Homo sapiens: one gene and its partners. The protein of the gene in region 1 purifies or fractionates together with the protein of each later gene. This does not show direct contact. Each region holds a gene or a part of one and is shown in the gene's direction. Other genes may lie near its edges. The genes, in order: SGO2, PREP, HEPHL1, PADI3, LYG2, LYPLA2 and KIF2C.

Region 1 (4,038 bases):
TGGGATGCTGTTTAACTCCATTTTACAAATAAGGAAACAGAAGCCCAGAGAGATTAAGTAGTTTGGCCAAGATTAAATAACCATTAAATGGCACAGTCACTACAAGGTTCATTTAAAAAAACATATAACATACATTGAGCATTTAATGTGTCAGGCTGGGTAAACAAGATATAGTGCTAGTTAACTCCTAGGTAAGCATAAATTTCTATAACCAGTATATTACTTTGTAAACCACTGTCTTCTGGAATTTTAGCAGCTGGACAATCAGTAAATACTTTTCTACTTACACAAGATTCATGTAACCAGATCTGTTTGGAGACTGATCGTGATTTATATTAGACTAAAAGATCTTAACTCAAAAGCATGTTTTGCATCATTTGTCTAGATTCTTTAAAGTAAAAATGGAAAGCTGTAATTCTCAAATGTCTTCGAATGAACAAAAAATTGACAAGAATATGAAGCTGACTGCATTACTGTATCATCAATTATTGGAACCTTGATTTAACAAGCTATTTTCATTTTCAGTCCAATGGCATACAAAGAGGAAATTTTATTCTTTGTAGTTTCTCCAAATTCTTTGTAAAAATTATGAAAGTAATTTGCGAAAAATAAGCGAATTGACATGGAATATAAGGTGAATAATACATTTTTAAAATGTAGTTGTGTATAATGGAAAACGTCATTCTTGTATATTCAGCTAAAACAGACCATTAGTGCAAGACCTAAATATTAATGAGATCCGGGGTTTGCAACGAAATGTCATTGCTGCTTTTCCCCCAGAAAGTTAAAAGAAAAACGGGGAGAGCTTTTAAGTGAAAACTAAATGTGCTGGCGTCACACTTGGAAATGCAAGGATGCAGAAGAAATGGTAAGATGTGGGTGGGTAGTATCCCAGTAAACAACATAAACCTTCTAACAGACTTGAGGTGGCTGTCAAGCCTTTCAGACATGTGATTGATAATGAATGTCAGAGGAGAGTTTCCTTTTCCATCAACGCTTCAGGAGACAGCGGACCGCCACCAACACAGGGCGGAAGAGCACCCCTGTCACGCAGACTGTGCCGCCCCCGGCTCGCCTGGGCACGCCCCTTCCTGCCCTAGCAGCGGCGTCCCGCCCTTTCCGCCTTTCACTTCCTAGTAACCGCCCTCCCTTGCTCCATCTTCGCAGGACCCGATTGGCTGATGGGGCAACCGCCAACGGCTGTGGCGTTTAAACCCAAGCCGCAGCCGCTGCTGCTCGCCGAGCTCCCGGAGCTGGGTGGGGGTGCCCCACGCTGAAAGAGAGGTAAGTTAGTGGCCTGCGGCAGTTGACGTGACCGCCCTCTCCCTGTCGGGATCGGTGTCGTTCTTGAGTCGGTTCTCTAGGCGCTGTCCGCCTCGGTCTCCGGCTCGTCTTCCGCCCTCTGTCCTCCGGGATCCGGGACGGCGGCCCCTCTCCGGCTACGAGGGGTTCGTTGACGGAGTCCTGTTTTGGCTTTGAGTCGCTGCCTCTTGTTTCTGAGATTTGAGCGTCCGGCAGGGCGAGCGGGGAGAGCCACCAGTTAGGTCAGCTACTTAAGGGAAGATATTTCTGTCTCTGGGACTGCTCTACTCCCTTGAACAGTTTCTAGGGCATTGTGAGCGCTCAGTACGTGTCTGCGGAATGAATGTTAGGGACTGCGTGCCAAAGTTCTCGAAGGAGCCCTCTCGTTTGGAGAGGCTGGCTGAAGGCGAAGGGGTGATGGAAGACTAGGGAGAACTTGGAACTTAGAACTTGAGCTGCTTGATGTACAGGTAGGATTTCAGTAGAGAATAGGGACAATGATTTTTTAGATGAGGTATCCAATTCAGGAGAATTGGATGTGGAACTGAGTATTTCGTATTTAGAGATAGTCGAGATGCTGGCCGGACAAGTGTCACAGAGTGCTGGTATTGAGTGCTGATAGTTTACCAGGTCCCGTACTAGACACTGTACATACATTGGCTCATTTAGTCCCTACAAGGAGATGCCCTTATTTTTTATGGTTTTATAAATCTGGAAATTGAGACGAAGAGGTGTTGAGATCACATAGCTATGAAACGTTGGAACTGGAGCTCCAACACAGTTGTAATCACTATCATAATGTCTCAGTGTCTATATGGTAAATCACCCTGGAACAGTACCCCAAATGCCTGGTTCTGGCTCCTAAAGTTTCCCTTGGTGAGGTCATTGATGTAGGGGGTTGCAGGGCAGTGTCAAGGAACACTCCCAGATTTCTGGCATGAGGATTTGAATAGGCGATTGACAGTGTCGTTTATTAAATTAAGGAATTGTGTCAGAACCAGCTTATTGGGGAGGGCAGTCCAGCTGTGGTTTCCTAATTAGTAAAGTGAGATTTGATATTCCAGACTGGATTTTTTGGGAGATGAACTAGATTTCTATGTTAGGATCCCTTTCAGGTGTGTGAGATGCAACAGTTTGTGGGGAGTTTCTGTGTTCTACTGTCTTTGAGATAGATAGTGATCTTTGATTTTAAAGTTTCTTCCTGGCAAAACGTTTAAAAGAACTGTTGAGCCTTAATCTTGAAAGGTTTCTGGTTCAACTTATTCCCCATTGCAGAAATTTCTTCTAAAACCATCTTTCCGTTATTTGCTTGACACCTCCCAACATCTGCTTAACACTTTCAAAGGAGACCCATTCCAAGAGTGGGCGGTTTTTCTATTGGAAAGTTCTTCCATTCATTCATAGTCACTTCTTCCACAAATGTTTATCCAGCAGCTGCTATGTGGCAGGCACATTTCTGTACTAAGGTACAGAAGCAAACAAATTTGACAAAAGTTTATGCCCTCATTGAACTTACAATTTAGTAGGAGAAAACAGATAATAAGTTAACTATTTAATTTTATCTTAGACATTGATAAGTTAACGGAGAAAAATAAAACAGAAGGGGAGAATGGGGGTAAGTGTGCAGTTTTTAAGTAGTTTGGACTGGGAAGGCTCACTAAGAAAGTGACATTTTGGCAAATGCTCGAAGGAAGTGAGCAAGCCCTGTGGTCATTTGAAGGAAGAGTTGATACAAAGGGAAGAAGGAATAAAAGTTTCTGCTTTAGAGCATGTCAAGGTAGGCAGTGTGGCCAGAGATTATTGAGCAAGAGAAAGATTAATGAAAAGGATTAGAAAGGTTCACTGATGATTAATTGGGGAAGAGAAGTGTCAAATTGTATAGTACTTTCTAGGCCATTTTAAAGATTGAGTGAGATGGAAAGCTACTGGAGAGTTTTTTTTAACATGGGAGTAACATGAATTTACTTAAGCTTTAAAAGGATCATTGTGGTTGCTAGGTTAAGAATAGATAGTCGGGGAGAAAATGGAAGCAGGGACACCATTCACGTAGCTATAGCAAATAATGTACATGGGAGAGAATGGCAACTTGAATCAAAGTGGTAGCAGTAGAAATAGTGGTAAGTAGCCCAGGTGGATATATTGTGAAAGCTGGGTCAGCATAATTGATCATAGAATAGATGTGGGATATGAAAGGAACTTTCTGACCTGAGCAACTGAAAGAATGGAGTTGTCATTAAGTGAGCTAGGGAGGACATGGTGGAGTAGGTTGGGGTGGGGGGAGTTTAGGACATGTTAAATTTGAGATGTGTGTTAGAAATCCTAGTTGGAGATGCGTAGTAGGCAGTTGGATGAATAAATCTGGAGTTCAAGGGAAAAGTCTAGATTGGGAACACAAATTTGAGAGTTATCAGCATTTAGATTTAAAAGCCAGGATACTGGCTGATAGTCCAGGGAGTATATGTAAATATAAAAGAGATGAGATCCAAGGACTGAGATCTGGGGCACTCCAGTGGTAAGAGGTTAGGGAGATGAAGAATAACCAGCAAGAGGGACTGAGAAGTGGTCAGCGAGGCAGGAGAAAATCCTGCCTCAGAACAAACAGAAGAATGTGCTATTTTGCAACCAAGTGAAGAGCGTATTTCAAAAGGAAGGAATGACTTGATATTAAATGCTTTTCACAGATCAAGTAAAAAGAGACTGGGCCTGACCACAGTATTTGATTTAACAACATAGTAA
Region 2 (3,500 bases), on another chromosome or scaffold:
TGGAGGTTTAAAGACTAAGTTTGTCCACAGTTGCTGTACATCTCCTACTTAACTCTGCCCCTAAGATAACCTCCTCCGTAGGCCATAGAGAAGATTATCCAAGGTTTCTGCAGTAAGCAGAGTTCTAGGGTAAGGAACTAAGTTATTCTCCAGTTCTGTATTTTAATAATTGTAAACTCTACAATGATAATGATGTTATAGATGACGTTGGCTCAGCATTTCTCCTGTAGTACCTTCTGGTTTTATAGAAAAAACCATATGATTAGTTATGGCCCTCTAGAATTGAGAAATTGAGACATTGAAGTCCTCTGTAATCAATAAGATGGGAGTTATAGAGCCCCGTTCCATCAGACCTGTGCAAAGACCCTTTTTTATACAAACACTTCTAACCATGATCCAGTCATTCGGTGGTCCACCTTCCCCTCCCTCTGAATAGGCTGTGTATATAAACAATGATCCTTTATCGAACCAGTATCGAAAATAAGACATCACCAGCTCAGATTCTTCCATGAATCTGAGCTTGTAGTTTTCAGTGAATTTAATACACTGGTTCTGTTGAAGTAACATATCCCATATAGGAATTCATTTAGTTTCCACAAGGATCTATCTTGCAGCCCATCCAGAGGGACAGGGTCTTAACTCCCACCCCGATAATGCATTCTTCTAGTGACTTCTTTATGGAATGTTTGCTATGGACAAAGCCTTGATGGGCGAGAAGCTAAATTAGGCATGAGACCTGCCTCAAACAGTCATTGAGTTTTCTAAGAGTGGTATTATAGGGAAGTTATCACAAAAGGAGTAAACATTCAGATTATTTTTGTAGTATATGATTTTTAAACATACTTTTCAAATCAAAATGTTTTATTTAAATTTTTCTGAAAATTTTCTGATATATATATATATATATATATATATATATATATATATATATATATATATATATATATATAAACAATTCAAACACTCCAGTGCTATGTAGAATAAAAGGTGAATATGTTTCTTTTTCCTATCACTTTCTAGACTCTTTTCTGCATTTACATACATATGAGCCTAGATACTTTATAGGACCTACAATGGTTAATGAGTAGGTTCTGTGAAATTTTAAACAAATGAAATTCCACGTAAAAGAATAGGAAACCTCTAATAATAGTTGAGCTTCTTAAAATTTTCATTACCCAATAACGTTTAGCAAACAGCCTAAGAGGAAATCTCTGGTGTCAGAGTCTCCAATAGGAGGTGTTGTATTGAATGCTTTACATACTTCATAATTAAAAAAGCTAATATGAAACACAAGTATTTGCCAGGAAACATTCCATAGTGATTAGAACATTCTGCCAGGGCCCTAAAGGACTGTACATGGCACGACAGTCTATAGACATGTTGCTTTTCCTTTCACAATTTCTTGTGGAATGTGCACTCCGGGCGCCTTCACTGCAAACCCTCAGGCTTTATTTACCTAGGCTTGTAATGGTCAGACAGTGTGGACATTGCACAGGTAATGCTTCAAAAATGAGGCTGTAACAAGGGATTTTAGATAATTTGGAATCAATCTCCCAAATTACCTAATGACTACAATTTAGTTCTATTATATGGTATGTGTCATAATTCAGTCATTACTCTAAAAGCAGTTTCCTTTTTCTCCTTATTCCCTTTAGAGTATAAATGAAATATGACAGAAGTCCCAGATGAGCTCTGCTTTTAACTGAACTGCCTATTGCATTATAAAAATTTCAAAATGAAAGCATTTTAGTAGGCATATAATCTAATATTTCATTTTATAGACAAATTAAGACCTGGAGAGGTTAGGAAGCTTGTCTAAGGTTATAAGGGTAATTCCTGTAAAACTTGGGCTGAGCCCCCGGGATTCCTCACTACCAGATTCCTATTCCTTTTATTGCCACATTCTACCTCCGTGTTATGAAAGAGAGCTTTGTTAGATGGCATAAAGGACCGTGGAGTTGTGTTCCGTGTTTGTCACTGGATGATTTCTCCTGTGTCCCATAGGTTATGCGTTCAGCGAAGATGGTGAATATTTTGCCTATGGTCTGAGTGCCAGTGGCTCAGACTGGGTGACAATCAAGTTCATGAAAGTTGATGGTGCCAAAGAGCTTCCAGATGTGCTTGAAAGAGTCAAGTTCAGCTGTATGGCCTGGACCCATGATGGGAAGGGAATGTTCTACAACTCATACCCTCAACAGGATGGAAAAAGTGATGGTGAGTGAAGACTTCAGATGAAGCACATTTTTCACAAAATGAAGTGTGACTTCAAGTGACTGAAAAGAGATGCTGAACCCTACATAGAGGTTGTGTGGTCCAGAACCATGTTTCCTCAAAGGATGTTGTATCAGTTGGCTTTGCTGTGTAATAGACCCCACCAAAATGTAGTAGCTTAGAATAATAAACATTTGTTTTTGCTATGAGCCTATGGGTTGGCCAGGTAGTTCTTCTGGCCTTGGCTGAGTTCTAACATGTATCTGTGGTCAGCTGCAGGTTAGTTGGTTCATCTTGGCTTGGCTCTTTTACATTTCTGGGCCCTCAGCTGGGACGACTAGCAGACTAGCCTGGGCTTGCTCACATGGCAACTCAGTAGAATTGCAAGACGGGGAGCTGAATGACACAGCCTTCTTAATGCCTAGGCTTGCTCCTGGCACGTCAGATTTGCTGCATTCTGTTGGCTAAAGCAAGCCAGAGGGCCAGCCCCTTTTCAATGGGTGGAGAAATAGATACAGGGAACTGCGGAAAAATGAGATCATTATTACAATCAATCAGTCCCTTATAGATGTGTTATATCTCCTAAGGAGATTATGGAGAAGGTGAATTTTTAAACCGAACCAAGCTATTTGATTATGTTGAGTGATTATAAAACTTTACTGCTACAGTAATCGCATATTCTCCTCTGATCAGAAGTTATAGGTCACCTGTTGGTTGCCATTTATCTTGATACTTTTCTCCTTGTTACTTTCTGGACACACCTTTATTGTTCTTCTCTTTAATTGCACAAAGATCCTGTTGTGTTCAAGGGGTTCCTCCCTCTTTGCTCCTTCACTTCTAAATTTTCCCAGGCAGGAAGGGCTATGTACCTTGTACCTTACTGGTACAATGTGTCATTTTCTTCCTTTTGCTACCCCACATTTCAACGTGGTATGTAGCATTTTCTTGTTATGTTGGTTGGTCTTTACAGGTAAGTTTTACAATCCCTGTGTTAGAGATTAGGAGCTTGGGCACAGAGGCTCAGTAATTTGCTGGAGGGCTGGGATCTGGCAAGAAGCACAGCTACTCCAGTGCTTTCTGCTGTACCTGTTGTCCCCTTATCATGACTTGTTGTATCTTTGTCATCTTTAAATATCCTTGCTTTCTTTTCTGTTTTTTTTTTTCCCCCACAATTGAATTGAGAATAAGGCTACAGTGTTTTTCATCTCTTGGCTATGTTTAGCTTTTTCTGCCTTTTGATTAGGCTACATCAAGACCTTTTTTATAAATTCGCCAATGAATTACAAGAT
Region 3 (3,500 bases), on another chromosome or scaffold:
CCAGGGGCACCTGGACTGAAGAAAGTCCTCTAATGCTTTCCTTCAGACTGAACCAGCCTAGCCACTGATTGGCTGGCAGCAAAGTCATTGAGGCTTTGTACTAACTTGTAGGGACATGTATTTCTGAATCCTGGGATCTCTAAGCTCTAAGACTGTAAAGTAATTCTTTAAAAACAAATCATCATTTATTGTCATATTTTTATAAGAATATGCCATAACTTCTATTTGTTTAAATTTAAGGGCCAGGTTTAATTGTCTCTGGGATATGAAACACTACCATCAAATTTCTGTTTTAATGTATCTGTGTTACTTCTACATAATTTAAGGTAGTTTGTTGGTGGGAGTAATGTGTTCACATTGACACATCCACAGTTTCTCACCAACAGCTATTTTTGACCAAAAGTGCACAAAAAGGCCTTGCCCAAGGTCACAAAGCTACTTGTTAATATAGATTAGAATATAGTAGCCTGATTCCCCATTCAGCTACTCTTTCCCCTACCAGTTTTGCTTTCTTCTCCTAAAGATGTCTTAGTATGCTCTCCATTTTTAATGAATGCAGGTCATTTGGTTGCACCACAATGCACAGAATCAAAAGTCAGTAGACAGTGGAGGAGTGGGAGTCACCATCATGTAAACTCAGTTTGCTTTGGTCATTGTTAGGTCATGAGCTCAGCCCGTGTGAAGCTCTCTTTTATTTTTGGAGATTCAGCCAGGCTTAAACTATTCTCAACAAGTGAAATATTAAGAAAATACCTTCTAAGTCACTCAATTTTTATTTACATAAACTTGTTTATGCCTTGATTTGTTCTCTGTAGAGTGGTATAAATCTGACTACCTCTCCAATGAGACTGTATTTCCCTTCATAAAGAGATTATGCTGAATAAACAAACAAAACACTGCCACCAAGATACGGCTTTAAAACTGCTATTTCTCTGTTCTCGCTCTCTTTGTAGAAGGATTTCTCAGTTATCTGAATTTTGGGTCTAGAATGGTAGGACACTGCTAGGGGTGAGTGAGATTGTTGCATGTTTACTAGACAGATGAAAATATCAGTGACCTAAAGATCTTCTGGAAACATTTAAAAAATCAGCTTATCTTTTAACTAACCAAAGGTTATTTTCTTATCACCTTTTAAAGCCATTAATGGAAAGATTTTTGGGAATCTCCATGGCCTCATAATGAACGAAGATACAATGACAAACTGGTATTTGTTAGGGATAGGAAGTGAAGTGGACATACATACCATCCATTATCATGCTGAGAGCTTTCTTTTCAAAGTAAGTATAAGGAAAGTGCTTTGGGAAAGACGTTTTTGAACTAACAAATTCAATGTATTTCCAGTGGAAAATAAGAGTTACTTGGCAATAATGCTTGTGAGGATAGGTGAGAATGGAACAGAATAATGTGATTGTACCGTTTCCCTGGTGGATATTTCTTTTCTTTTTTTTTTTTTTTTTGAGACGGAGTCTTGCTCTGTTGCCCAGGGCGGAGTGCAGTGGCACAATCTCAGCTCACTGCAAGCTCCACCTCCCGGGTTCATGTCATTCTCCTGCCTCAGCCTCCCGAGTAGCTGGGACTACAGGTGTGTCCCACCACGCCTGGCTAATTTTTTTTGTATTTTTTAGTAGAGACGGGGTTTCACCATGTTAGCCAGGATGGTCTCAATCTCCTGACCTCGTGATCTGCCCGCCTCGGCCTCCCACAGTGCTGAGATTACAGGCGTGAGCCACCACGCCAGGCCTGGCTATTTCTTAATATGTATATGTATATTATTGTGCTTATAAAAATCTCTCCAAGCCTCAGGTGAGAGTTTTCTCATTAGTGATCTGGGGATAACTCTGACCACCCTGGAATATGCTGTTAATATTGTATATGAAACCACGGACACTGACAGCATTCGTCCCTTTTCCTCACCCTTCCTTTTTTCTTTCCCTTTCCTTCTCCCCACCCTTTTCTTTTTCTGTGTGATTAGCTAACAGAATAGCTCTATCCAGTAAAGGAGCTATTTTGAGCTCTGGCCTAAGCCCTGAAACTTTATCTTGACTTTTGCCCTAGTGAGCTGGGCTGGACCATGTGTGACTTTCTACCCTCTAGCATCAAGCTGTACCATATGGGTGGTGCTCACTGTACAGCAGAGCCATCTGGGGAACTATGTAAAAACCCAACTGCCAGGCCCGACCCAGACCTGCTGAATCAGAATCTCCATGGAAAGGTCCAAATAGTCTGTCATCCGAAGTTCTCAGTGCTTTCTACAAGGAAGTGGAATAGAAAAGAACAATCATATCCAATGTGTGGAGAAAACTGGAATTGATCTTTTCTAGTTAGACACGAATAAACGGTAACTTTAATAAAACATTTAATATCCTTTCTCCTTTGTATATTTCAACGTTGTTTACGACACCAAGTATTAGCCTGCTATGATTAGAGTTTCACATATTAAATGGCTATGCTGCTTTTCAGAATTTGGCTTTTTTAAACTCACATTTTAAAAATTATATTAAAAATTTATAAAATTTAATACACAAAATTATAAAAATTTACATATACACTTTAAAAATAAGATATAATTTACATTGAATACAATTCACCATATTTAGTGTACAGTTCTCTTTTGATAAGCACATACAGTAGTGTAACGAACAACAATCACAATATAGAATACTTTTATTTCCCCCACAAATTTTACCATTGCACCCTCTAGTGTCAACTACTTCCCCATACTTAACACTTGTCAACCACTGTCTCTATAGTTTTGCCTTTTTTGAAAGGTTATGTGGAAATCATAGGTTGTAGCATCTTGAATCTGGCTTGTTTGATTTAACATAGGCATTCAAATTGTATCCATCTTGTTATGTGTATCAGTGGTTTGTTTCTTGTGACTGTTGAGTAGTATTCCATTGTAAGGATATAATGCAGTTTGTTTATCTATTCTCCTGTTGAGGAACATTTGAGTTATTTTCAAGTTTGTTTATTACAAATCAAGTCATTACAAACATTTGTGCACATGTTTTTGTGTGAACATATGTTTTCATTTTCCTTGAGAAAATACCTAGAAGTAGGATTGCTAAGCCATGTGATAAGTGTATGTTTGATTTCATAAGAAACCACCAAACTGTTTTCCAAAAAGGCAGTATCATTTTGCATTTCCAAGGAAATATACGAGAACTCCATATGTTGCACATCCACATATGCAGTTGGTATTTTTAGTTTTTATTTCATTTTTTTCCCTTAGGCATTCCCTCCTTGGGGAGGGGATATAGTGGTATCTCATTGTTTTTCATTTACATTTTCCCAGTGGCTAATGATATTGAGCATCTTTTCATGTGTTTGTTTACCATCTGTCATCTGTAAATCTTTGGTGAAGTGTCCAAATTGTAAGCCCATTTAAAAAAATTGGGTTACTTGTTTCCTTATTGTAGAGTTTGAGGGCTTTATATATTCTGGATACAAATCCTTTTTCAGTGATGTGACTCACAAATATTTGCTTCCAGTTTGTGGCT
Region 4 (3,500 bases), on another chromosome or scaffold:
TTTCTTGAGCAGTGAGTCTTAGGATGGGGAAAGGGAAGGAAGGGTACCCTGGTGCACTGAGCCATGCACTGGGCGTCTGGTGGCTGATTAACTCCTCCCTGCAACTGGAGGCAGGCTCAGCGGGATGGTGGTCTGACAAGTGCTATCCCACAGGGCTATAGGGCTTGAACCCAGATCCCATCAAGTTCCACAGCCCAGGTGGTTTGCTTGGTTCCACACAGCTCTTTCTCAAGGCTCAGGCATCAGCACAAACCTTAGCACAAAGTCTTGGTGCAGGAAGAAAGCTGCTTTCTTTTCTTCTTCTTTTTTTTTTTTTTTTGTTGAAGACAGGGTCTCACTCTGTTGCCCAGGCTGGAATACAGTGGTGCAATCTTGGCTTACTGCAGCCTGGACCTCCCCAGGATCAAGCTATCCTCCCGCCTCAGCCTCCCGAGTAGCTGGGACTACAGGCGTGCACCACCATCCCCGACTAAGTTTTGCATGTTTTGTAGAGATGGGGTTTTGCCATGTTGCCCGGGCTGGTCTTGAACTCCTGGGCTCAAGTGATCTGCCTGCCTGAGCCTCCCAAAGTGTTGGGATTACAGGTGAGAGCCACCGTGTCTGGCCCAGTTTCATTCTTAATGGGCAAAATCAAAATCCCAGGATGACCTCTGGTGGGGAGGGCCATCCTCAGGGCCTCTGTCATTGGCCCAGTGGTAAGAACAGACTGGACCCATTCCCACTGGGCTTTCCCATAACATGTGGAGATGCTTCCTGGAGTCTGTTGGGTTGTGGCTGCTCATGTGGCTGAGGGGCCCGCGAAGCTGGTCACCTTTGGGATTCATCACAGGTGGGCTTGGAGAGCAGTCCCCAGGCTGGTTCAGTGAGACATCTCTGGGGTCTTACACGCCACTTCATTTTTTAGTTGGGGAAACTGAGGCCTGGAGTGTGAAATGACTTGCTCAGGGTTACATAGTGAGTTAGGGACAGAGCTAAAACTAGAAACTAGGTCTTCCAATTCAAACGAAGGATCTCTGACTATTGGTGAAGAAGAAACTGAGTCACAGAGGTGCTGAGACTCGCCTGGATTGGAGGTCCTGGTGGGGCTTGTGGCGCCTCTGTGCTGGCAGACTTGGCTCTAAGGGCCCCAGAGCTCCAGGTGTTCTCAGATGCACGGCTGTGTAAGCCCTGCAGTCAGAAGGTCCTGGAAGGGTCAGGTCCCATCTGCATGGCTGCAGAGGGGCCCAGCGCACACAGCAGCCTAGAGGGCAGCTGAGTCTGTTCTCTAAGACACCTCGAAGAGGGGGCAACCTTGACCTGAGCGGGTGCACAGCTCTCGCACCTCAGAATGACCTCAAGTAACAGCACATGGAAAAGACAGAAGGCAGGGAGCCCATCACTAAGGTATCCCGGGCAGGTGTCTCCTAAGAGACCACACCTGGCAATGAGCCATGAAGCTCCTCTTTTCTCCAGCTCAGAGGTTCTCAACCCTGGAAGTGTGTTTCAATCACCTGGGGATCCATAAAAAAATTGATGCCCAGGCCCCACCTTGGGAAACCTGATTCAACTCATCTGTGAAAGGCCCCAGCACCCTAGGTTTTCAGGATCCGCTGGGGATGAATGTGCAGCTGGGGCTAAGAACCGCTGCCCTCACTGGGAAGACAAACAACTCATGTCACCCCTTTCTCTGCAGAGGCTGCCTAATGGAGCCAGGACTCCAAGTTTTGGTCCTAGTTCTGTGGTCACTCACTATGTCATCTTGAGCAACTTTCTACTCAACCCTGGGCCTCAGTTTCCCCATATGGACCCTGAAGGGGTTGGCATAGAACAGTGGGTTTCAATTTCCACTCATGGAGGCCTCTGAGTCCCCTCCCTGATTTGACAAAGCAGCTTCCATTCTGTCAACATCGGATTTTGTTTGATGCGAGAGCTCTGACCTGCCTGTGCAGAGAGCTGGGCCCTTGGGGGGATTGGTGCATTTCTGCTCTTTTAAATACGGGGGATTTGGAAAAAGGGTATACGGGGCTGCCACTTTCCAGTGGTGGGGTGGGGCAGGGCCACCCAGATTACAGTGGGACCATGATTTCCTGAACCTGATTCTATTGATGAGGCTGGCAGCGTCGGCGGATCTGGGATCCTCGCTGACTGGGGAGGGGCAGCTGGAACTGCCACCCAGAAACCCAGCTGCCTGGGTCTTGGTCTCCTCTGCCCCCACATCCCAGCTCGGTGGAGACCTCGTTGGTCATCTTGTCAACCTTTCGGTGTTCAGCCATGGGGAACTTTCCCATCAGTTTCTCAGCTCCTAAAATGTCTGATTTTGTTCTCCCAGAAGTCCAGGCCCTGAGTCCATGAAGGGAGAAGATGGGTTTGGGTTTGCAGGCGAGTGGGGACAGAGCTGGCCATGAGTCCTGGCTCTGTCACTTGCTAGCTGTGTGACTTTGGGCAAATCACCTGCCGTCTCCAAGGCTCAGTATTCTCATCTGTAAAGTGGGGATAATAGCACACAAGTTATGTGGCTGTGGGGGATACCTTCCTCACCAATGCCCCGTCTTCCTCCTCACCATTGAAGGGGGTGATACACGAGGGGGATGGGCTCACACTGAGTCAACTCTACACGGGCTGGAGGGACCAGGCTCCAGCATTTTTTTTTTTTTTTTTGAGATGGAGTTTTGCTCTTGTTGCCCAGGCTGGAGTGCAATGGGGCTATCTTGGCTCACTGCAACCTCCGCCTCCCAGGTTCAAGCAATTCCCTGCCTCAGCCTCCCTAGTAGCCGGGATTACAGGCATATGCCACCACGCCCGGCTAGTTTTGTATTTTTAGTGGAGACGTGGTTTCTCCATGTTGGTCAGGCTGGTCTCGAACTCCTGACCTCAGGTGATCCACCCTCCTCGGCCTCCCAAAGTGCTGGGATTATAGGCGTGAGCCACTGCGCCTGGCCCACCAGGCTCCAGCATTTCTAAGACAACCTACTCTAAGCCGTGATTCTCAGATGTCAGCAAATATCAGAATGGCTTAAAATGCGGTTCCAAGGCCCCACCTGGAGCACTTCTAAGAATCTGCATTTTCAATAAGGTGGGTCTGAGGTTGGCTACTTTTAGGGAGGCCAACTGTTCCTGTTTGTCTGGGACCTTGCAGGTTTTAGCACAGCAAATTCTGTATCCAGGAACAGCCTTAGTCCCAGCAAACTGATGCTGTTGGCCACCCTACCACATTTTACCCCCAACTCACCATCTTAGGCTGGCTGTGCCAGAGGAGCAGTTGAGTTCTCCGGCTGGCTTGGGGGGTGTGGGGCTGGGAGAGCCCTGGACAGGCCTGTGCATGGAAGCCTCAGCGGCGAGGGTCCAAGGCCCTGAGCCCAGGACTGGACCAGAAGCACTGCCTAGAAAGCCCAGAAGCCAGCATGTGACAGCTCAGCCATGCTGGCAGCTCGAGGTGGCCTGGAGAGGAAGGACTTTGTCCAGGTGAGGCTCCAGGTACTTCCCCTGTTCTCTAGGAAATGGGAAGCTAGATCCTCCCGTAC
Region 5 (3,500 bases), about 100 Mb from region 1:
GATACTGAACCTGTCAATATAAGGACACTTGATCCAGATAATTTAAACAATCCCTTTCTGTCTCATTCCTTCATCCATCCAACTATCCATTCTTCCATTCAGCAAATGTTTATTAAATGTCTACTTTGTGCCAAGCATTGTTCCAGGTGCTGAGGAGGATATAGCAGAGAAAAACATCTAGTATCTGACCTAATGAAATTTATCTTCTAGTGAGAGGAACGAACAGTAAGAGAGTGAGAGGAAAAAGGGAAGAGAGAGGGAAAGAGTGAGAGGAAGGGAGGGAGATAAAAACATTTCACCTGTAAAAATTTTTGGGCTGGGCACGGTGGCTCACACCTGTAATCCCTGCACTTTGGGAGGCCGAGGCAGGCGGATCAAGAGGTCAGGAGATTGAGACCATCCTGGCTAACACAGTGATACACCATCTCTACTAAAAATACAAAAAATTAGCCAGGTGTGGTGGCAGGCACCTGTAGTCCCAGCTACTTGGGAGGCTGAGGCAGGAGAATGGCATGAACTTGGGAGGCGGAGCTTGCAGTGAGATAAAAACATTTCACCTGTAAAAATTTTTGGGCTGGGCACGGTGGCTCACACCTGTAATCCCTGCACTTTGGGAGGCCGAGGCAGGCGGATCAAGAGGTCAGGAGATTGAGACCATCCTGGCTAACACAGTGATACACCATCTCTACTAAAAATACAAAAAATTAGCCAGGTGTGGTGGCAGGCACCTGTAGTCCCAGCTACTTGGGAGGCTGAGGCAGGAGAATGGCCACTGCACTCCAGCCTGGGCGACAGAGTGAGACTCCATCTGGAAAAAAAAATTTTTTTTTTTAATGTGTCTCTAACATATAAGGACCAGCTCTGGCACAAAAAGATGTTCCTGGTTCATCTTGAACATTTCCTGCCCCAGGCAGGCAATCAGCCATTATTCTGAGGAGCGCTGGTTCCACTTAGCAGGAAATGGTATTTAGAGACCACAGTGTGGGAAGTAAAAGTGCTCCATTGCTATGGAGCTGTCGTTTATTTCAGGTGTTTTCAGTGGCAGGAACTAGAAAATATATATTTTTAAAAGGAAAACAACTATGCATTCAGATATTTCACATTTATATTTAAGAATGCAAGCATTTTACATCAGTTTTATATTTGTACCTCTGCTATCTTACACTAAAAATCCTAGTTCTAATGACATTAGCATTATTACTTATTTACATACAATAGTGTCAAAATAAGTATGACAGTATTACCAACCAACAATGAGACAGTAAATATAATTTAAGATTTTCTTGTGATTATTTATGTTCACAGGATGGATTCCTATGTAGTGGTATAGACTTATATGGATATATTTTAAAGTCACTTAAGATAATTCTCCTCTATGTGTTTATTAATCTTTCAATTTGTTATAGAGTTATGTTCATTTGTTCTTCTTTTTTATGATTCCATTTTTCCCCATTTGATTTAATTTTAAAATTTATGATAACATTTACATGGTTCCAAAATAAAAACTTTAAAAAAGATAGTTAGTCTATCCCCTATCCCTGTTCCCTTTACCTTCCTCTTACTCTCTCCATAACTAACAATTTTTATCAGTTTTTCATTCATCCTTGTATTGTTTCTTTTGAAAATATGAGCAAATCACACAAAATATACGATTGTATTTTCTTACCTTTCTTACACAAAGAGTACAATTCTATAAATACTATTTTGTCCCTGGAGAGAATTTTACAGGAGTATATACAGGTCTTATTCTTTCCTTTTGCAGCTGCATAGTGCTCCACTGTGGACGTAGCATCACTTACTCAACCAGTCCCTAAATTAATGACATTTGTGTTGTTTGCAGTCCTTTGCTCTTATCAACAGTGCTGGAATGAACAGCCTATCACAAAACTGTGTTCCACAGCAATGTGTGTGACAGCCTATTTCCTCACAACCTCTCCCACAGAGGGTATTGCCAAACCTTTGGGCTCTTGCCAACTAAAGAGTTGGAAAATGCAGCCAGGCGTGGTGGCTCACGCCTGTAATCCCAGCACTTTGGGAGGCCAAGGTGGGCGGATCACAAGGTCAGCAGATCGAGACCATCCTGGCTAACATGCTGAAACCCCGCCTCTACTAAAAATACAAAAAATTAGCCGGGTGTGATGGCAGGCGCCTGTAGTCCCAGCTGCTGGGGAGGCTGAGGCAGGAGAATGGCATGAACCCAGGAGGCGGAGCTTGCAGTGAGCCATGATCGCACCACTGTACTGCAGCCTGGGCGACAGAGCAAGACTCTGTCTCAAAAAAAAAAAAAAAAAAAGAGTTGGAAAATGCTGTTATAATGATGTTTTAATGTGGCCTTTCTCTTCTTTTGAGTGTGGTTTAACGTCTTTTATATGTTTAAGGACTATTTTCTTTTTTTGTCTATAAACTCGCTATATATTCTGCTGATAAGGTGATATTTGGACAGAGACCTGAAGGCATGATCATGTAGATACCAGGAGGAATAGCATTCTAGGCAAAAGGGACCACAAACATACAGGCTTTGAGGCAGAAACCTGCCTGGCATGTTGAAGGATAAGCACAAAGAAGAATGTGGCTGGAGGAGAGTGAACAAAGGGAAAGAGAAGTAGGAACAGGAGCAGAGGGCCACATCTAGTAGGTCTTGGAGGCTGCAGGATGGACTTGGCTATTCCCCTAAAGGAGGAGAAAGCCACTGGAAGGTTAAGAGAGAAGACTGATAGCAGCCCATGCATATTCCCACAGGGCCACTCCGTCTACTAAGTAGAGGATGGGCTGCAAGAGTGAATCAGGGAGGTCAGTTAGAAGGCTGTTAGGAGAGTCCAGATGAGCAATGATGCTGGCTGGGACTATGGCAGAAGCAGAGGTGGGAGAAGTGGTTAGATTCTTTTTTTTTTTTTTTTTTTTTTTTGAGACAGAGTTTCGCTCTTTTTGCCCAGGCTGGAGTGCAATGGCGCGATCTCGGCTCACTGCATCCTCCTCCTCCTGGGTTCAAGCGATTCTTCTGCCTCAGCCTCCCGAGTAGCTGGGATTACAGGCATGCACCACCATGCCTGGCTAATTTTGTATTTTTAGTAGAGATGGGTTTCTCCGTGTTGGTCAGACTGGTCTTGAACTCCCGACCTCAGGTGATCCGCCTGCCTTGGCCTCCCAAAGTGCTGGGATTACAGGTGTGAGCCACCACGCCCAACCAGATTCTATTTTTTTTACATCAAACATTTTAACAAAATCCTTTTTTTTTTTTTTGAGATTTGAGACAGGGTCTTGTTCTGTTGCCCAGGCTGGAGTGCAGTGGCACCATCAAAGCTCACTGCAGCCTCGACCTCCCGGGTTCAATCAATCTTCCTGTCTCAGTCTCCCATGCAACTGGGACTACAGGCATGTGCCACTACACCAGGCTAATTTTTGTATTTTTTGTAGAAATGAGTTTTGCCATGTTGCATAGGCTGGTCTCAAACTCCTACGCTCAAGCAATCGTCCTGCCTCAGCCTCTCAAAGTGCTGGGA
Region 6 (4,113 bases), on another chromosome or scaffold:
TCTGGGCCTGGGGGAAAGTGCTTTGTTGAGCTTCCAACTTTGTACTGTTTTCTTTTTCTTTTCTTTCTTTTTTTTTTTTTTTTTTTTTTGAGACAGAGTCTCGCTTTGTTGCCCAGGCTGGAGTGTAGTGGCACTATCTTGGCTCACTGCAAGCTCCGCCTCCCGGGTTCACGCCATTCTCCTGCCTCAGCCTCCCCCCGAGTAGCTAGGACTACAGGCGCCCGCCACAGCGCCAGGCTAATTTTTTGTATTTTTAGTAGAGACAGGGTTTCACCGTGTTAGCCAGGATGGTCTCGATCTCCTGACCTCGTGATCCGCCCGCCTCAGCCTCCCAAAGTGCTGGGATTACAGGAGTGAGCCACCGCGCCTGGCTGTACTGTTTTCTTTCTGTTCAAAGAAAACACTAGTATAGGTTAGGCTGGGAGAGTGAGTCCTAAGCGGCTGAGGGTCAAGTGTGACTCATTTCCTATTTGCAGATCCCCACACATTCTCAGGGACATGCTCCTTCAACTCAGTTTGCCTGCCTTCTGACTTTTCTGTGGTCCCTGATACCTATTTCCACTTCAGCTTGATGGCAGCGTTTTGTGCACTGTCTGCATGACATTGCTTGTGAAGGGCAGCGCTAACACTGCCAGTGCCTGTCCAGCTCTCCTGATACGGCCTTTGTATTTTTCCTAGGTCCTTTTTTGCGTGATTAACACCTCACGCTGTGATTTTACTGTATAAACCATGTTCACACAACCTCATTTAAGCCTACCAACAAAGCTGTGAAGGAGGCAGGGTGGTTATTACCATTTTATATATCAGGAAGCAGATCCAGAGAGGCAGAATTTAAATGGAATCCCGAGGTTGCTGTTTACATGCCTTCCTTGAGCCTCAGTTTCCCCATCTTCAAGGCTGGAGAACTAGATGATCTGTAAGGTCTCTTCGGTTCAGAGTGTGTCATTCCATTCATGATCCTGGAATAGGGCATGAAAGCCAGTGGCAGACACCCGAGGCCTTAAGAGGTGTGTCCCATGAGGATGGGAAGGTGGTAAAGTTTATGCAAACAATAGTGTGAGGGATGCCTCTCCTTCCGGTCGGCCCTCCTCCAGGAGGCGCATGGGTGGTGGTAGCAAGTGGGAGTCTTGGGTGCCCTGTCTCGAATCTACAAGGTGGGAGCGGGTGAGAACCCAGCGACTGCGCGGCTGAATGACAGGGAGTAGCCCCGCCGCCTCCAACATGGCAGCTTCTATCCAGCGAAGCCGGGTCCCCGCTTCCGGGTTCCGTACTGTCGGCCAGGCTACTTCCGGCAGCGCGATGGCTGGGTTCCCGGGACTCGAACGGAAGTTCCGGCGGGGGCGGCCGAGGGGGAAGAGTGTGTCTGCGGGAGAAAGAGGAGAATCGCCCAAGCGGCCTCGGAAGTCCCAGGGAGTGGAGGTACCCAGCCGGCGGCTGCGGAGGATGGGCGTGTAGGGGGAGGTCGGCCTCGGGAGGGTCCCGGAGAGCGGGGAGGGGGAACCGTGATGGGGGGGATGGGGGTGGGGAGTGAGGTGCGAAGGCGCTGTCCAGTCTTGGGGACTTCGGGAGTGGAGCGGGGCTAGGCAAGGGGGTGTCTGAGTATAAAGAGACAGACTTCAGGGTCGGAAATAGAAGAGCCCATTGTGGGGCGGGGGCTTCCCCAGAGTCAAAGGTACAAAGCTTTATTGTGGGCAGGTGGGAGTCCTGGGTCAGGGTAGAAAATTTCACTGGGTAGGGTGACCTTTGGTCAGAACAGAAGTTCCCATTGTGGGGAGCGGGAGATCCTGGGTCAGGGTGGAAGTTCTCAAGGTGTATAGAGAGAGACAGGTCAGGGGGAAGGCACCCCTCCGAGGAGGGAGCCTGGGCGGGAGGTGCAAGTCCCCACGGTGGAGAAGGAAGGGAATCGCAGCTCAGGGCAGGAGGTGCATTCCCCATGGGAAGAGGAACCCCGGGTCACAGGTGAACGATCCCATTGTGGGGAGCTGCCCTCAGGGGTCAGAGATGGAAGGTGAGGCCAGTTGGGAGGGGTGGGCAGGCACTTGAGGCAGGTAGTGGAAGCTTCCGGCGAGTTTGGAGGACGCCGAGGATGGGGAGGGGCCAGCCAGCCTGACATTCTTTTGTGTGTTTGGGAGTCCCAGAGCGTGGTCAAGCCAGGGCTCGTTTGCAGTCAGTGGCAGCAGCAGCAGGTAGCTCCGTTTAGGGGGGGCGTGGAGCACCAGTTTGGGGGTGGGTGGAGTTCTTACGCTTTCTGGGGACATGGGCAGCCCCCTGGGGGTCTGGGAATGGATGGGCCAGAAACTGCTGTGAAGGCTGGATGGGGGCTGGGTGGGGGGAGGTTGAGATGGGGGTTGGAGGCGGCACTGAGTAGGGGATGGAAGCTCCTTTCCCTGGCACTTTTCTCTCCATTTCCCATAGGGCCCGGAGTTGGGGAGGCAGGGACCCAGGGATGATTGGAGAGGAGGGGGAAGGCACTCACCCCTGAGGAGTTAGAGGGGGAATGAAGCAGGCGTGCCGCTGCCTCCCCTCTGCCCCCTGCCCTACAGTCCCTATGCCCTGCCTCTGCCTGTCTCCAGCAAGCTCAGGTCCTGTGGTTGGGCCAGAACCAGAGACACATGTTCTGGGCCACTAGGGAGGCTGTCTCTGCCTTTCAGCCCTGGAACTGAGGCAGACTTCTTCTCCTGTGCCCTGGGACTTCTTGCTTGACTATTCTTTGTGCCCAGGACAGAACCTGGGTGCTGTGTGGGGCTGATGGCCTGGTGGCCTCTTGGGCCAGGAGTGTGTCCTGTGCCTGGTTTTGCTCTTGACCGCCGCCCCGATGTATGCAGGCCCCCGCCGTGGAGCCGTGTGGTGTATGTGTGGTAACACCATGTCTGTGCCCCTGCTCACCGATGCTGCCACCGTGTCTGGAGCTGAGCGGGAAACGGCCGCGGTAAGGGTCCCCTTTCACCCACGGCCAGACACTGTGGGAGCAGCTGGAGGACCGGCTGGAGGGGGTGTGGGAAAATGGAGGTGGCAGTGATGAGCAGGGAGTATCCTGAGGCCAGCAGGCTCGGGGTAGTAACCTGTTTGGCTGCTACCTGGGTTCCCCCAGGTCCTTGGGGGTGGGGGAGGGGTGGGCAGAAGTTGGAGGACCTAGGGGAAGCCTTCCTGTCTCCCCATTTCCCATCCTTTTCCAGGTTATTTTTTTACATGGACTTGGAGACACAGGGTAAGTGACTGAGGAGGGGTGCTCCTTAAGGAGGGGTCCTGGCCCAGCAGCGGACTGGAGAGGCCTTCTCTTCCTACCACATCGGAGCCTTTTCTCCCGTCCCTCCTACAGGCACAGCTGGGCTGACGCCCTCTCCACCATCCGGCTCCCTCACGTCAAGTACATCTGTCCCCATGCGTGAGTGTCACCCCAGCAAGGGAGGGGCTGAGGCTGGGGATCATCTGGGGGTGGTCCTGTCATCCCAGGCCTGTTCTCTCCTGTCAGTTGCATCCTGGGGCTTGGGCTCAGGGCAGTCAGAAGTGGCATTTTCAGCCTGAGCTCCTGTGGAGCCCCCAGGAGTGGGGTCCAGCACCAGCCCCCAGCCCTAGGGCCTCCTAGACCTGAGCTCTCCTAGAACCCACACCTCCCTTTGCCCCTTCCCCAAGTACTCACCGACTACCTGGGACCCCGTCACACCAAGCGCTGGGCTCTGCTTCTCCATTACTGGCGCTTTGCCCCAACCACAGCCTCCAGCCCCACGTGGCAGGTTGCCTGGCAACACCTTAAACACAGGCCCTGCCTGCTGGGAGGGGCCACCAGGGGCGGCGCGGCCCCACTCCGGGCTCTGAGCTCTGGCCTCCTCATTCCTCCTGAGCATGATGGGCCCTCTGGCTCTCTTTCCCCAGGCCTAGGATCCCTGTGACCCTCAACATGAAGATGGTGATGCCCTCCTGGTGAGTTTGGGAGTGGGGGTGGGCAGGGGGACGAGGACACTTGGGCTGAGGGAGCCACAGGGGGCTGGCTGGGGTTTTCTATAGCTGCCAGTGCCTCTACTCCCAAGGTTTGACCTGATGGGGCTGAGTCCAGATGCCCCAGAGGACGAGGCTGGCATCAAGAAGGCAGCAGAGAACAGTAAGACCCCAGCC
Region 7 (2,215 bases), on another chromosome or scaffold:
CAGCCTGGCCAACGTGGCGAAACCCCATGTCTACTAAATACAAAAAATTAGCCGAGTATGGTGGCGGGCGCCTGTAATCTCAGCTACTTGGGAGGCTGAGGCAGGAGAATTACTTGAACCAGGGAGGCAAAGGTTGTAGTGAGTCAAGATCGTGCCACTGCACTCTAGCCTGGGTGACAGAGCAAGACTCCATCTCAGAAAAAAAAAAAGAGAAACTAGTGCCTAGACCAAACTGTGTCCGTGTTCATGGGATTGGAATGAGGACATGAGATTCATGAACCATTTAGATATACAAGCATGAAAATCTTACAAGGTACCCCCCAAAATATGTACTCTCTCTCTATATATATATGTTTTTGAGACAGAGTCTCACTCGTCACCCAGGCTGGAGTTTAGTGGTGCAATCTTGGCTCACTGCAGCCTCCGCCTCCTGGGTTCAAGCGATTCTCCTTCCTCAGCCTCCTGCGTACCTGGGATTACAGGTGCGTGCCACCATGCCTGGCTAATTTTTTGTATTTTTAGTAGAGATGGGGTTTTACCATGTTGGCCAGGCTGGTCTTGAACTCCTGATCTTAAGTGATCCGCCTGCCTCAGCCTCCCAAAGTGCTGGGATTACAGGTGTGAGCCACCATGCCCAGCCTATATATCTGGTTGGTTTTTGTTTGTTTGTTTGTTTGTTTGTTTTGGGGGGGGATGGAGTTTCGCTTTTGTCCCCCAGGCTGGAGTGCAACGGCACCATCTCGGCTCACCACAACCTCCACCTCCCAGGTTCAAGCAATTCTCCTGCCTCAGCCTCCCAAGTAGCTGGGATTACAGGCATGTGCCACCACGCCCAGCTAATTTTGTATTTTTAGTAGAGACGGGATTTCTCCATGTTGGTCAGGCTGGTCTCGAACTCCCTACCTCAGGTGATCCTCCCGCCCCGACCTCCCAAAGTGCTGGGATTACAGGCGTGAGCCACCACGCCCAGTCGTATATCTATTATTTAAAAAGAATCATTTGACCGGGCGCAATGGCTCACGCCTGTAATCCTGTCACTTTGGGAGGCTGAGGCGGCCACATCAACTAAGGTCGGGAGTTTGAAACCAGCCTGGCCAACATGGTGAAACCCCGTCTCTACTAAAAATACAAAAATTAGCCAGGCATGGTGGCAGGCATCTGTTATCCCAGCTACTTGGGAGGCTGAGGCAGGAGAATCACTTGAGCCCAGGAGGCGAAGGTTATAGTGAGCCGAGATGGTGCCACTGCACTCCAGCCTGGGCAACAGAGCAAGACTGTCTCAAAAATAAAATAAAATAATCATTTGGCCAGGTGCAGTGAGTCATGCCTGTAATCCCAACACTTTGGGAGGTCAAGGAAGGAAGATCACTTGAGCTCAGGAGTTCGAGACCAGCCTGGGTAACATGGCCCCATCTCTACAAAAAATAAAAATAAATAAATATCCCAAAGGTGGTGTGTGCAGCAAAAATTATAATAAAAAGAACTGAGGGTAGGGATAGCATTAGGAGATATACCCAATGTAAATGACAAGTTAATGGGTGCAGCACACCAACATAGTTCATGTATACATATGTAACAAACCTGCACGTTGTGCACATGTACCCTAGAACTTAAAGTATAATAATAAAAAAAGAAAGAAAGAAAGAAAAAAACCATTTAGGGAGCAGAATTGAGGAGGATTTGGTGACAAGTACGGTGAAAGAATAAAGTCACTCGGGCTGGGCGCGGTGGCTTATGCCTATAATCCCAGCACTTTGGGAGGCCAAGGCAGGCAGATCACAAGGTCAGGAGATCAAGACCATCCTGGCCAACATAGTGAAACCCTGTCTCTACTAAAAAATAAAAAAAAATAGCCTGGTGTGGTGGCGCGTACCTGTAGTCTCAGCTACTCGGGAGGCTGAGTTGTATACCTATTATTTAAAAAGAATCATTTGACCGGGCGTGATGGCTCACGCCTGTAATCCTAGCACTTTAGGAGGCTGATGCAGGCAGATCAACTAAGGTCGGGAATTTGAGACCAGCCTGGCTAACAAGGTGAAATCTTGTCTCTACTAAAAATACAAAAATTAGCCAGGCATGGTGGCAGGCACCTGTAATCCCAGCTACTTGGGAGGCTGAGGCAGGAGAATCACTTGAACCCGGGAGGCGGAGGTTGCAGTGAGCCGAGATCACGCCACTGCACTCCAACCTGGCGACAGAGCAAGACTCCGTCTTA

The links.
Region 2: the proteins of SGO2 (region 1) and PREP purify together in Homo sapiens (affinity purification with mass spectrometry; 3 studies listed by BioGRID and IntAct, with this or other methods). This does not show direct contact.
Region 3: the proteins of SGO2 (region 1) and HEPHL1 purify together in Homo sapiens (affinity purification with mass spectrometry; 3 studies listed by BioGRID and IntAct, with this or other methods). This does not show direct contact.
Region 4: the proteins of SGO2 (region 1) and PADI3 purify together in Homo sapiens (affinity purification with mass spectrometry; 3 studies listed by BioGRID and IntAct, with this or other methods). This does not show direct contact.
Region 5: the proteins of SGO2 (region 1) and LYG2 purify together in Homo sapiens (affinity purification with mass spectrometry; 3 studies listed by BioGRID and IntAct, with this or other methods). This does not show direct contact.
Region 6: the proteins of SGO2 (region 1) and LYPLA2 purify together in Homo sapiens (affinity purification with mass spectrometry; 3 studies listed by BioGRID and IntAct, with this or other methods). This does not show direct contact.
Region 7: the proteins of SGO2 (region 1) and KIF2C purify together in Homo sapiens (co-immunoprecipitation; one study listed by IntAct). This does not show direct contact.

Annotation. Positions count from the first base shown.
Region 1 is NC_000002.12:200,524,969-200,529,006, forward strand, and holds the start of SGO2 (shugoshin 2), read left to right. Parts: upstream 1-1,238; 5' UTR 1,239-1,284; exon of another isoform or gene 1,285-1,772; intron 1,773-4,038. UniProt on the Homo sapiens protein: Cooperates with PPP2CA to protect centromeric cohesin from separase-mediated cleavage in oocytes specifically during meiosis I. Has a crucial role in protecting REC8 at centromeres from cleavage by separase.
Region 2 is NC_000006.12:105,372,083-105,375,582, reverse strand, and holds part of PREP (prolyl endopeptidase), read left to right. Parts: intron 1-2,004; coding exon 2,005-2,214; intron 2,215-3,500. UniProt on the Homo sapiens protein: Cleaves peptide bonds on the C-terminal side of prolyl residues within peptides that are up to approximately 30 amino acids long.
Region 3 is NC_000011.10:94,104,854-94,108,353, forward strand, and holds part of HEPHL1 (ferroxidase HEPHL1 precursor), read left to right. Parts: intron 1-1,137; coding exon 1,138-1,277; intron 1,278-3,500. UniProt on the Homo sapiens protein: Is a copper-binding glycoprotein with ferroxidase activity. It oxidizes Fe(2+) to Fe(3+) without releasing radical oxygen species. May be involved in the regulation of intracellular iron content.
Region 4 is NC_000001.11:17,252,098-17,255,597, forward strand, and holds part of PADI3 (protein-arginine deiminase type-3), read left to right. Parts: intron 1-3,500. UniProt on the Homo sapiens protein: Catalyzes the deimination of arginine residues of proteins.
Region 5 is NC_000002.12:99,249,167-99,252,666, reverse strand, and holds part of LYG2 (lysozyme g-like protein 2 precursor), read left to right. Parts: intron 1-3,500. UniProt on the Homo sapiens protein: May act as a potent antibacterial protein that may play a role in the innate immunity.
Region 6 is NC_000001.11:23,789,832-23,793,944, forward strand, and holds the start of LYPLA2 (acyl-protein thioesterase 2), read left to right. Parts: upstream 1-1,313; 5' UTR 1,314-1,419; intron 1,420-2,720; exon of another isoform or gene 2,721-2,815; coding exon of another isoform or gene 2,816-2,851; coding exon 2,852-2,929; intron 2,930-3,176; coding exon 3,177-3,208; intron 3,209-3,319; coding exon 3,320-3,385; intron 3,386-3,640; exon of another isoform or gene 3,641-3,701; intron 3,702-3,873; coding exon 3,874-3,921; intron 3,922-4,028; coding exon 4,029-4,099; intron 4,100-4,113. UniProt on the Homo sapiens protein: Acts as an acyl-protein thioesterase hydrolyzing fatty acids from S-acylated cysteine residues in proteins such as trimeric G alpha proteins, GSDMD, GAP43, ZDHHC6 or HRAS. Deacylates GAP43. Mediates depalmitoylation of ZDHHC6. Has lysophospholipase activity.
Region 7 is NC_000001.11:44,763,837-44,766,051, forward strand, and holds part of KIF2C (kinesin-like protein KIF2C), read left to right. Parts: intron 1-2,215. UniProt on the Homo sapiens protein: In complex with KIF18B, constitutes the major microtubule plus-end depolymerizing activity in mitotic cells. Regulates the turnover of microtubules at the kinetochore and functions in chromosome segregation during mitosis.